3 linked regions of the Homo sapiens genome follow. The protein of the gene in region 2 purifies or fractionates together with the protein of the main gene of each other region. This does not show direct contact. Each region holds a gene or a part of one and is shown on either strand. Other genes may lie near its edges.

Region 1 (3,500 bases), on a different chromosome or scaffold from region 2:
GATGACATCCCCTGGGTAAAAGGTAACAAACCTGGATCAAAGCAGAAGGACCCGGTGAGACCAGGGGCTGGCTGAGGTGGCCACAGCCAAAGATGGAGGGCTCAGGTCAGCCTCCACATGTGTGGCAGGTGAAGCGGGGCTGGCAGGACAGCCCCTGTCACTCACTGGGAGACCCAGGCTATCAGGTCCTCTGTCTTGAATACCATCTGGTTGGTGTTGCCGCTCTGGACCACTTCCCCATTCACTCGGCAGCAGATCTTTAAGTTGTGTGGATCTGAAATGCAAAGATGGTACCTTGGAGTTATCCCTTTTCCCCCTCAAACCCCCCAATATTTTACAAACACAACTGTAGGGGTGCTTCGTGACTTGGCAGGTGAAAGGGCTTCAAAGTGCCCACATTGACTCAGTGCTCTATGTTAGAACTTTCTGTATAGACATTGGCCTTCTCAGGCCTCCCCGCATCCCCACCAAGAGCACCAAGCAGTAGTAACAGGGATGGGTTGAGAGGATGTTTCAGACTCTGAAGGGGAAGAGAAAAATGGCTAGGGTTTTTGCCTTGAAAAAAATAAGGGCATCTGTCTACAGCATAGGATGACACCTGTAGATTGACTCAGCAGGGCCAAGCGTGGTGGCTCATGTCTGTAATCATAGCACTTTGGGAGGCCAAGGCAGGCGAGAACTGATTAAGCTCAGGAGTTCAAAATCAGCCTGGGTAACTTAGTGAGTGCTTGTCTCTACAAAAAATAATAAAAACATTAGTCAGGCGTGGTGGTGCGTGCCTGTAGTCCCAGCTACTCAGGAGGCTGAGGCGGGAGAACTGCTTGAACTCAGGAGGTTGAGGCTTCAGTGAGCTGGGATTGGGCCACTGCACTCCAGCCTGGGTGACACAGTAAGACCATGGCAAAAAAAAGACTCAGCATCTATAAAGCAGTGAGGCAATGGTTCTAGCCGGGACAGAGAAGCCTCGTGTACTGGATGCTGGCAGGGGATGGATTACTGTAAGAACATCCTGGCTAACCAGCACTTTTTACTGTTGGTGGTGGTCCTAGTGTTCTACCCCCCTTAAGTAGAGCAGCTGAAACACAATTTAACTTTGCTGAGGACTCTGCATGGGGTGCTGAGGCACTGGGGTCTTTGGTATCCTGGCATGGCTGGCCCATGTGGACACCCCCCACCTCCACCACAGTTGTGGGTGGCTGTGTAAGAGGCTGCGCTCTGCCCTCTGGGGCACTGCCCCCATCCTGGCGCTGTATCCTGACTGTGTGTGGTCAGTGCTGTTCTATTTCCACAGTGGCTGGGTGAGTCACACTGGCTTTCATCTCCTGTAGTGTGGAAAATGCCTTGGCCTTGGGATAACTATGCTCCATGATGCTCAACTTAGATTGTTTCAGAGGTGGCAGCCGCAGGAAGCCCGATCCACCCATCAGCTCAGTGTTCTTTGTAATTTACTTCACGCATGCAGTTTCACATCCTCTGCAGTTGTGTTCCCTCTAGGGGGCTTGGGAAGGAAGCCCATGGGAGAACTCGTGGCTGAGGATAAGAGACTTGCCCTGTATGGAGTCAGCAGTGAAAGGGCGGCCAGGGAGGGCAGGTGCCACATGTACCTGAACCCATGCTCCTCCCTGAAGCGCTGTTCATCTGTGCAATGGTAGGTATAAGGGGGCAGGGACCAGGGACCTACCTGCTACACTGTCCTTGGTCACCAAGGCAGGGCCCAGAGGGCAGAAGGTGTCGAAGGTTTTTCCCAGCAGCCATTGTTTCCCATTACGTCTCATTTGCCAGTCACGAGCACTCACGTCATGAGCCACAGTGAAGCCGGCCACGTGGGCCATAGCATCTGTGGCCTATGGGGGCAGGGGATTTGGCCATACAGGAGGTTAGATCATGGGTGACACCAACACCTATGGCAAGGGATCTCTAAGCTGTTATCCCATGTTAGTAGCCAGAGCCAGCCAAAGGTGGGTGAAGGGAAAGGCAGTGTCAGGGAGCAAGGAGGCTGACTGCTTCCTAGTGTCAGGGACAGCTGGCACCGTGTGTTGGTGAGTGGGGTCAGAACTAGGAGAGGCAGGAGCTGGGGCCTCTGCTGCACTCTGGACTGGGAGCCCACCCTTTCCACCTCACCTTGATGTGCTTGCCTTTCTTTCCAATGACCACGGCCAGCTCCACTTCCCAATCTACCTCCTGTAGGGTGGGAGAGGAACAGTGAGCTGCAGTGGCTTCAGGGCCCACTGTCCATGCTGAGAGGCTGCACACCATGCTGAAGGGCCTCAACCTTTGTCAGTATGGCTTCGCTGCCATCCCATGTTTGCCATCACCACGAACCAGAGCCCAGTGAATGACAAGGGAGGTGTGACTTGTAGACCCATACATTTTGGGCAGTGGCAGACAGCATCATGGGATGCAGGCACAGGTCCCCACACCACTGACTGCAGAAGAGCAACACGTGTCCAGGGCACTGAGTTTAAAAGTCACTCTGGATACTTTTAACAAAGGATAAATACGAAGTAATATCCCCTAGCAATATGTAACCCTACTGTGTGTCAGGCACTGTTCTAAGTGTTTTAATCTATTAACTCCCACAAAGGACTTGAGTAAGCAATTCACAAAAAGGTAACGGACATGGCCACAAAACATGAAGAAATGCTCAGCCTCTCCCATAATCCATAAAATACACTATAAAATAGATATAATTTGGCCTTTAAAATTGGTGGCTCTTTCTAATAATAACCAGAGTTGGTGTAAGTACACCCGACATCCAGATGTTGGTCTCTAATACCACTCCCCACTAAGGAGCACTGGGTTCCTTGGGGAAACGGCCAATTCCAGTTCCAAGACAGACAGTACATGATAAGCCTAGAACATCTTGGCCAGAAAGCTAGGATATACTAAAAGTGACGGGAATGGAGCCAACTTGAAGGCCCCTCACTGGCCAAACTGAGGTCACCTAAAGAATGTAAATGATGAATTACAAACAATTGAGTAAAAACAGAATTCACAGTGATATTGAAGACAGGAATAAAAAGGAGGGAGGCAGCTTTTCTTCATAGAAGAATGCCAGCCAATAAAAACAGAAGGCATGATTGAGAAGTCATTGATCTTGTCTGGGAGTGGTGGGTCACGTCTGTAATCCCAGCACTGTGGGAGGCCAAGTCAGGTGGATCACCTCAGGTGAGGAGTTCAAGACCAGCCTAGCCAACATGATGAAACCCCGTCTCTACTAAACATACAAAAATTAGCCAGGTGTGGTGGTACACGCCTATAATCCCAGCTACTCAGGAGGCTGAGGCAGGAGAATCACTTGAACCCAGGAGGCAGAGGTGTGCTGAAATTATGCCACTGCACTCCATCTGCACAATAGAGTGAGACTCTGTCTCAAAAAAAAAAAAGGTCATTGTTCTCTAACCCCCAGTGCAATAATAGATTCAGTCAGGATGACCACAGGATCCCTGGATGAGATGCTATGGGGCAATAAGATAGTTATGTGATCTCAAACTACCACC
Region 2 (5,156 bases):
CTGTGTCGGAATTGATGGGTTCTTGGTCTCACTGACTTCAAGAAAGAAGCCACGGACCCTCGTGGTGAGTGTTATAGTTCTTAAAGGCGGCATGTCCGGCGTTTGTTCCTTCTGATGTTCGGATGTGTTCAGAGTTTCTTCCTTCTGGTGGGTTCATGGTCTTGCTGGCTCAAGAGTGAAATTGCGGACCTTCGTGGTGAGTGTTATAGCTCTTAAGGCAGCACGTCTGGAGTTGTTCGTTCCTCCCGGTGGGTTTGTGGTCTCGTTGGCTTCAGGAGTGAAGCTGCAGACCTTCGCGGTGAGTGTTACAGCTCATAAAGGCAGTGTGGACCCAAAGAGTGAGCAGCAGCAAGATTTATTGCAAAGAGCGAAAGAACAAAGCTTCCACAGTGTGGAAGGGGACCCGAGCGGGTTGCCACTGCTGGCTTGGGCAGCCTGCTTTTATTCTCTTATCTGGCCCCACCCACATCCTGCTGATTGGTAGAGCCAAGTGGTCTGTTTTGACAGGGCCCTGATTGGTGCATTTACAATCCCTGAGCTAGACACAAAGGTTCTCCACGTCCACACCAGATTAGCTAGATACAGAGTGTCAACACAAAGGTTCTCCCAGTCCCCACCAGAGTAGCTAGATACAGAGTGTCGATTGGTGCATTCACAACCCCTGAGCTAGACATAGGGTGCTGATTGGTGTGTTTATAAACCTTGAGCTAGATACAGAGTGCCGATTGGTGTATTTACAGTCCTTTAGCTAGACATAAAGGTTCTCCAAGTTCCCACTAGACTCAGGAGCCCAGCTGGCTTCACCCAGTGGATCTCGCACTGGGGCTGCAGGTGGAACTGCCTGCCAGTCCCACGCTGTGTGCCCACACTCCTCAGCCCTTGGGTGCTCGATGGGACTGGGCGCCGTGGAGCAGGGGGCAGCACTCATCAGGGAGGCTCGGGCCGTGCAGGAGCCCACGGAGGGCGTGGGAGGCTCAGGCATGGCAGGCTGCAGGTCCCGAGCCCTGCCCCGCCAGAAGGCAGGTAAGGCCCAGTGAGAAATCGAGCGCAGCGCCAGTGGGCCGGCACTGCTGGGGGACCCAGTACACCCTCTGCAGCCACTGGCCCGGGTGCTAAGCCCCTCATTGCGTGGGGCCGGCAGGGCCGGCTGGCTGCTCCGAGTGCAGGGCCCGCCAAGCCCACACCCACCTGGAACTCCAGCTGGTCCACAAGCACCCCGCGCAGCCCTGGTTCCTGCTCGCGCCTCTCCCTCCACACCTTCCTGCAAGCTGAGGGAGCCGGCTCTGGCCTTGGCCAGCCCAGAAAGGCGCTCCCACAGTGCAGCAGTGGGCTGAAGGGCTCCTGAAGTGCCGCCAAAGTGGGAGCCCAGGCAGAGGAGGCGCCGAGAGGGAGCGAGGGCTGTGAGGACTTCCAGCACACTGTCACCTCTCACTATGACCCTTGCTTATGCAGCCCAGGTGGCTGTTATCTAGGCTTGCTCAAAAGAGCCTTGCAAGTGCTTATCTCATAATCTTCACTATGGTGCCCAGACGGCCGCAGCCTAGGCCTACTCAGGCATGTCTTATAACCTTCACTGTGCTGTTTAGATAAAACAGAATACTTGAAGTTACTAGTTACAGAAAACAGGAATCTATAAACTCATAAAACTTGCAGAGCAAGGTACAATCACACGGAAGGGGATGGGATTCAAGGGGGAACTTTACTTTTTCTTATCCTTTTGTTGAGGGAGTGCTGGAAGAGTCTCCAGAGCACATCCTTTGAGCCCTGGTTTCTTTGAGAATGTTATCAAGACTACACCCGGGTCAGGGCTTTGCCTGTTACTGCCTTTGGGATGAGTCAGCCTCATATAGAAAGCTTGTTTTTCACTTTTTAAATTTTATTTTGCTTTCTTCAATTTCCTGCCTCACTTCCTCAGGCCCCATATTTGAGCGCCAAACACAGTTAGGGTGAGAGTGAGACTCTGTCTCAAAAAAAAAAAGGACTTTCTTCTCAATTCATCTAAGTTCTTGTCACACAATCAGGAAAGATCAGTCTTGTGGACACAGAAGGGTGAGAATAATGGAATTTATTGGGCAAAAAAGGAAAAAGAGAAAAACCTCAGCAGAGGAAGAGGGAGCTGCTCCTACCCTGCCACACAGGAACTCAAGAGGCCAGGCTCCTTGCGTCTGCCAATGGCATGAACTTCTGTGGCTCCACCCTGTTCTCCCAGTCAAAGGCTGGTGGGAGGTTCTCTGGGGAGCTCTTTTTACTTCGCTGTCTTACCACTTTATAAATGTGTAACCAAAGCTCAAGCAAGACCTTTCCTCTGTTCAGGACAACAAAATATAATCGTTGTCCCTAACATTTCTACTTCATTTATAATCTATGCTTTGTCTTTACTTCAGGTATCTCTTAGTTTTCACCTCCTTGAACTGAAACCTTTATTATTTCTATTTCTACATTATTATAGTGTCCATCTGGAGTAACAAATTCAACCCCTGCCAAACTAAAATTAATAGTTACACTCCTGTTTTCTCTCTCCTGATCCACATGTGCACACTAAGAAAAACCTTTCTTTTCATTCTATTCACCCTAGTTTTCAAAGCCACAGCTCTAGATAATCATTCAAGACTCTTCTGCTTTCTCTTTCCCAGTCAGTAACTCCCCACATCCCTCAGTCCCAATGTCCTAAATATCTTAAAACTTTACTTTTCATTACTCAGTACCTAGTTCAGATTCTGACCATATCTGACCTGGGCCTTTGCAACAGTCTTTTAACTGGTTTCCCTACCATTGCATTTCACCATTTTAATTCATTCGTTACACCAGATGGAGCTTTCTAAAACCTATGTTCATATTACTCCCTTGCTTAAAACTCCTTAAGTCTCCTCATAAAGGAAAAACGTGCTGTATCATTCAAGTGCTTTCATGATTCTTTAAAGACGCCACTTCTTTAGTTAACTTAATCCTATGTAATAACATTGGTGAAATCACGTGTGAGTTTTCTACTTATGTCCTTTTATAATATATGAATATATTTTGTTATATTTTAAAATACATATATTTTTGTCCTTGTGCCACCTAAAATCATTTTTCATGCTGGTCTTTGGAAATACTGACCTAGAAGTTGAAATCTAAGCCCTATGGTGTGATCCCTCTAGTTCTTCACATCTTGCTGCTCTTCTCTTTCCACCTTACATATATGAAGGCTGAAACCCTAGCAGTTCCCCAATGTGATACGTTTATTTCAATCTCCTATGCCTTCGCTTGGAGCAGGCCCCCTCCCCATTCTCTCCTTAATGAACTTTTTATCCGTAGGAAATCACTCCATCATTTCAAAGTTTTCCCTGAAAGTCATCCGTTCTATGCCTGTATCTATTTCTCTTGTAGTATTTTTCACATCCAAGGCTGCTAACACTTGAAGGCAGGGTCTAAGTCTTCTCTCTGTTTTACCTGTCCCTCACATAGAACCAGGGCATGTAGTAGGACTCAAAAAAAGTTTCTTGGATTTAACGGAATCCCAGACTTTAAAAGTTAAAATCAGGAGAACCCACAGTTAAGGGAGTCATTCTAATTCCTAAAAGTATTTAATTAGCTCTGTATCCATAAAAGGACAGTGGAACTGATGGATCCTAGTGTTACTTGTTTAAGATGAGACCAGTGGCTAATGAGATGAGTTCAAATTCATAACTCCAAAGCTTATACATACTATTCTGCCTCTCAGTTGACATGTTTTGGTCAATACATAGTAATCTGTGATGAATTGTCTTGTTGGGTTACTTCTAGATTCATGTCCTTTAAAAGTTACATAATCAGGACTGGATTCTAAGGAAATAATCCAAAATAGAGGAAAAGCTATATTCATAATGTTCCAGTGGACATTTTCATTTAGAGCAGCAAAAGATTGGAAATAATTTAAATATCTACCTTAATGGCTAATTATATAGTATATCAGTTTAATGGACTATTTTTCTGCTATTGAAAATGGTGGTAACTGATATTACGGAGAAAGTGAACACTAAATAATTTCAAGTGGTAAATGTAGAAAGCAAAATTGTGGGATTTTTAAAATTTTGTTTGTTTTTGTTTTTACTGAGATTACAAGTATATTAGGAAAAATTATATTTAAAAAATTTGGAGGAAAGAAAATTTGCCATTAATTATATTAAGAGGGAGAGATGGGTGGGTTTAAAACTTTTTCTTTTCTTTCTTTCCCAAATTTTCTGAGCTGGGTTCTGGAAGGATGAACCAATTAAAAAATATATATATATGGAAAAAGATTACAAATCCTGGGCTAAGGGCAAAGTGGTTTCAACCCTGATCATGTATCCCCAACCCTCTGATACTCCAAAGTCAGGACTTCCTTTTTTTCAGCCAGGACGTTTTTATTCTGTAGAGTTTTTTGTTTGTTTGTTTTTGAGACAGAATCTCACTCTGTTGCCCGGACTGGAGTGCAGTGGTGCAGTCTTGGCTCACTGCAACCTCCACCTCCCTGGTTCAAGCAACTCTTGTTCCTCAGCCTCCCAAGTAGCTGAGACCACAGGCACACACCATCTCGCATGGCTAATTTTTGTATTTTTTGTAGAGATAGGGTTTCACCATGTTGGCCAGGCTGGTCTCAAACTCCTGACCTCAAGTGATCCACCCGCCTTGGCACCCCCAAAGTTCTGGGACTGCAGGTGTGCCACCACGCCTCAGCTTCCATAGAGTTTAGTTTTGATCTGTTTTGTTTAATTTTTATTTTTTAATTTTATTTTTCCATAAGTTATTCAGGTACAGGTGGTATTTGGTTACATGAGTAAGTTCTTTACACTAGTGATTTGTGAGATATTGGTGCACCCATCACCTGAGCATTATACACTGCACCATATTTATAGTCTTTTATCCCTTATCCCCCTCCCATTCTTCCCCCCAAGTCCCCAAAGTCCATTGTATCATTCTTATGCCTTTGCGTCCTCATAGCTTAGCTCTCCCATATAATTGAGAACATACAATGTTTGGTTTTCCATTCCTGAGTTACTTCACTTAGAATAATAGTCTCCAGTCTCATCCAGGTCACTGGGAATTTGGGTTGGTTCCACGATTTTGTGTTGGGCATTTGGGTTGGTTCCATGATTTGCAATTGGGGATGATGCTGCTATAAACATGCATGTGCAAGTATCTTTTTCGAATAATGA
Region 3 (4,266 bases), on a different chromosome or scaffold from region 2:
GGCATACTCCAAAAGCAACATAAACACATTTTTCACCAAATGGATTTTTAAAAAGAATACTATGCTAGTGGTAACATTTTAAACACTGTAGTTATTAAGTATGTCAATTACACTGAAAGTTGATGATAAAAATCACACTTACTTGTGTTTTCCAGAGGAAGACTCATCTCATTGTCTAGGAACAACTCTTCCTGACCATTCTGTGTAGGCTGCTTTTGATCTTTCCTTCCAGTTTCCTTGTGGAAAGTTCTTAGTGTTTCCCTAAGATTTTCAAAGTTTAGGTTTTTGTAGTTTGATACCTCCTTTACCCATGTTAAAAATTTATTAACATCATCACTGGAGACCTCACACTCTTTAAGAAAGAGAGCACAGATATGTTTTTGATTTGGTGGTGACATATCAGACTGCAAAAAGTAAGACGGAAATCCTTGAACTTGATATTGATAGCTCCTTGATCCCACCACAGGCTTTACTTGTACCTTCACTCTCCACCAAGCACCTGTTATCGGAAAACGTCCAAACACTTTACATGTCTCTTGTGTGTTTTCATCACAAATAGAAACTAAAAAAAAACAAACAAAAACCCACAAAAGTTAACTCTGGAGATTATTTAGAAACCGTTTCCTCAAAGTTTCATCAAACTTACCACTATCTTTAATCTCCCTACAGCACTCTCTAAAGATGTCTGGTAGGGTGCCTGTAACACTGCATTCTGCCTACCTCTTTTTCTGTCTCCCTCCACTACACTGTAAATACTAAAACAGGACACTGTTTCGTTTGTCTTTGTATTCCAAAACGCAAGCACAGTACACAGCAGGTGTCTGCTGTTCCTCTTCTAAAATCAGTCCCCTCTCTGCTACTCTTGACTTCAGCCAATACTGGCCTTCATGCAGTTTCTTTAAAATGCCATGGCCCTTCACTCAAGTTATTCCATCTGCCTTAACTGATCTCCCCTTTACTGTTTACTACATTTACTACAGACCTCAGCTTAACTATCACTTACTTAGAAAAGTCTTCCCTGAATCTCATGTATAAAACCTCTCAAAGCACTATTTAGCATTCCTTCTAAGCATTTAGTAACATTATAGTTACTTCTGTGATTAAAGAATGTTTGTTTAATACACTAGAGGGTAAGCTTCATTAAGACTGCAACCTTGTTATTTTATTTCTCTAGGTTTTCCCAGCACCAAACATGCTAGCCAGTTGATGATACTTTAGAATGACGACTAAGCCCTCCACAAATACTTGAAACTTTTCTGCCTAAATCTGCGCTGTCCACCCACGTGGCTATTTAAATTAAAATGTAATAAAACTTAAAATTTCTCTCCTCAGTTACACTAGCTGGATTTCAAGTTCTAAACAGCTACATATGGCTAGTGGCTATTATACCAGACAGTGCAGATATAAAACACTGCCATGATCATGGAAAGTTCTACTGAACAGCACCGGTCGGCACATTAAAATATTTTAAGTCTCAGTCACAAAGTATACATAACAGGTATAACTTATAGCACAGGAAACTACCTCATAGCACAGGAAACTACTTATACAAGGTTTACCCGAACCACAAGGTTACTAACACCAATTAACAATCATCTGTGCACTGAGGTGTTCCTTGTGTTTCGTTTTTCTTTTTCTTTTCTTTCCTTTTCGTTTTTTGAGATGGAGTTTCATTCTTGTTGCCCAGGCCGGAGTGCAATGGTGTGATCTCAGCTCACTGCAACCCCCACCTCCTGGGTTCAAGCAATTCTCCTGCCTCGGCCTCCCAAGTAGCTAGGATTACAGGTGTGCGACATCACGCCCGGCTAATTTTGTAGTTTTGTTGTTGTTGTTGTTGTTTTACTAGAGACAGGTTTCACCATGTTGGTCAGGCTGGTCTCGAACTCCTGACCTCAAGTGATCCACCTGCCTCGGCCTCCCAAAGTGCGTGAGCCACCGCGCCCGGACTGTTTTGTTTTTCCAAGAAGCTGAGGAAGAACCACGTATTTGACTCCAGGCAATATAGGATAATAATTACAAGTTCTCATTCTATAGAACTTGAGGATAAGTGGTCAGAAGGAAAAATAAAAGTTCCGATTCTGGGTGGAAATAGAGACTCAACATCCACTGTTTCCTTAAGCGTAAAACTACCTTACATTAAAGGTACATTAAATTAAAGGACGACCATTAAAATGAGAATAATTTTAAAAAAAAAAAAAAAAAAAAAGGGCAACCCGCTCGGGTCCCCTTCCACACTGTAGAAGCTTTGTTCTTTCGCTCTTTGCAATAAATCTTGCTGCTGCTCAAAAAAAGAAAAAAAAAAAAAAACCACATAGTATGTGTCCAGTTAAAGTCACTGCTATTATTATAGTCATAATTTTACCCTTGGTAGGATGAAGCAGCTAGACCACTGATAAGCTAAATCTGTTAGCACGACTGGGTGCCTTGCTCAGGGCAAAGCCAGAATGGGAAGCGCTACTTTGGACCCTCCAACCCCATCCCCCGGGCAGACGCCTTCCTCACCGCGGAGGCACCCGGGGAGGCTGCCAGCCTTTACGCCCCCACTGCAGAGCTCCTCGGCGTCGATGAACACGGACTCTTCATCCTCCTCCACGTCGTCGTTTAGGTAGTCGTCGTCCTCCTCCACCAGATCCCTGGGTGGGAGCAGAGGTCCCTGAAGTTGGCGCAGGTACGGACTCGACCTGGCCATGCTTCTCCTGAACTCAACCCAAACAACTCGGGAAAACCCTGGCTAACTGCATGGTCATGATCAGCCAATCAGTTCTACGACTGTAAGGCCATCAACTTCCGGGAACGGCCTGGCGGCCGCCAGCGTACATAAAACCTGAAAGGCAGCGAAGCTCCGCCCCAAGTTTCCAGGAATTGCCGAGGGGAGGGCATGTGGAAGGGGCGGGGCAAGGCGGGTTAGGGGCGGGGAAGGGAGAGCGAGGGGCTGGGAGATGGGCGGGGCTTCCGCTCCTTTTGGAGCCTGGTGCTGGGCGGTGATTATCAGGAAGGTGCTGGGACGAAATCAGCGCTGGGGAGTGACAGGCGTGGCACCTGCAGAACCGCCAGTGCACGGCATCTCCTGCGGAGAGAGAACGGGGAGAAAGTCCACTTCTGCTGAGCTTGAAGAACCTGGAAAAGCAACCCCCACCCCAACCTTCCCAAAACGAAAGTATAGCAGATGCCCTTCTGGAATCGGATCTAGGGCAGGGACCTAGAATTCTGTCTTTTTAATGTACATTCCGGGCTGTCCATTTTGATGCTCAGCTAGGTTTGGACACCACTGGATTAGATAACATTCAAAGTTATTTTTATCCTTTCCTCTGTGAGTACACCCTGGTCTCCCAAACTTATTTAAGCTGGGCTGCTACCTGCTGACAGTGGGGCAAAAGTGTCTCTTTGCAGCCCAGAGTATAGACAGGAATAGGAGAAGGGAAATAGAAGAGAAAGGAACGTGGTTTTAAAAACTATTATGGGGCTATGATTCTCTTACTTGATGAGGATGGTACTTGAAAGTCTTGGTACTATTTAAGAAATACCATAAATATATTACTACATTACTGTATTGATACTGTTTATTTTGGGATTATTCCTGAAATAACTAAACACACACTATTTACTAAATCCAAAAGCACCTGATGCTATATTTAAATATATATAAACGACAACTAGCACCAAATATTTAAGAAAAATGTATAGGAGAAAATATAAAAATTGATTTCTTTTCCTTTGGGTACCAATTGAAAAATGCCCACTTTTGTTGCTTTTAAAAGAAATACTGTTGCAGCTGACAAAACACCAGTGTTTCCAAGGATTGGCTATATGAGGTTGAATTCCTTTGACATTCACATGGCTACTGTTTCCACCACAACATTGAATCTCCTCTGACAAATGTCACACTTACTGTCCTCTTCGTTTCAAAAACCAGTGGATACTTTTCAGCCTTTGTTTTACCTGACCTCTCAGCAGTATTTGATACTGATAAGTATTTTCTTCTTGTAGCATTCTGCTGCCGGGGCTTTTGCAGCTTGCCTTCTCAGATTTTTCTCCTTTCTGGCTATTTACAGTCTTGGACCCCTCTGCTTGCCTGTAAGTACTGTTATTCCCCAAGGCTCCATCCCAAGCATCTTCTTGCTCTATAATCCTTTCCTCAATCATCCTTCACCTACATGCTAATGACTCAGCCTAATCTGATCTCCAAACCATACAAACAACTGCCTAAACACTGTCAGTCACTACTGGATGCCCCTTGGCTACTTAAGACTCAGCATATCTAAACTG

Evidence for each region. The genes of interacting proteins can lie anywhere in the genome.
Region 1: the proteins of THEM4 (region 2) and FAHD2A fractionate together in Homo sapiens (co-fractionation; one large-scale study listed by BioGRID). This does not show direct contact.
Region 3: the proteins of THEM4 (region 2) and HELB fractionate together in Homo sapiens (co-fractionation; one large-scale study listed by BioGRID). This does not show direct contact.

What each region holds. Positions count from the first base shown.
Region 1 is NC_000002.12:95,409,208-95,412,707, reverse strand, and holds part of FAHD2A (oxaloacetate tautomerase FAHD2A, mitochondrial), read right to left. Parts: intron 2,182-3,500; coding exon 2,122-2,181; intron 1,845-2,121; coding exon 1,682-1,844; intron 275-1,681; coding exon 166-274; exon of another isoform or gene 32-165; coding exon 1-31. UniProt on the Homo sapiens protein: Tautomerase that converts enol-oxaloacetate, a strong inhibitor of succinate dehydrogenase, to the physiological keto form of oxaloacetate. It is thereby required to maximize aerobic respiration efficiency by preventing succinate dehydrogenase inhibition.
Region 2 is NC_000001.11:151,902,229-151,907,384, reverse strand, and holds part of THEM4 (acyl-coenzyme A thioesterase THEM4), read left to right. Parts: intron 1-5,156. UniProt on the Homo sapiens protein: Has acyl-CoA thioesterase activity towards medium and long-chain (C14 to C18) fatty acyl-CoA substrates, and probably plays a role in mitochondrial fatty acid metabolism. Plays a role in the apoptotic process, possibly via its regulation of AKT1 activity.
Region 3 is NC_000012.12:66,301,027-66,305,292, reverse strand, and holds the start of HELB (DNA helicase B), read right to left. Parts: upstream 2,801-4,266; 5' UTR 2,690-2,800; coding exon 2,503-2,689; intron 563-2,502; coding exon 143-562; intron 1-142.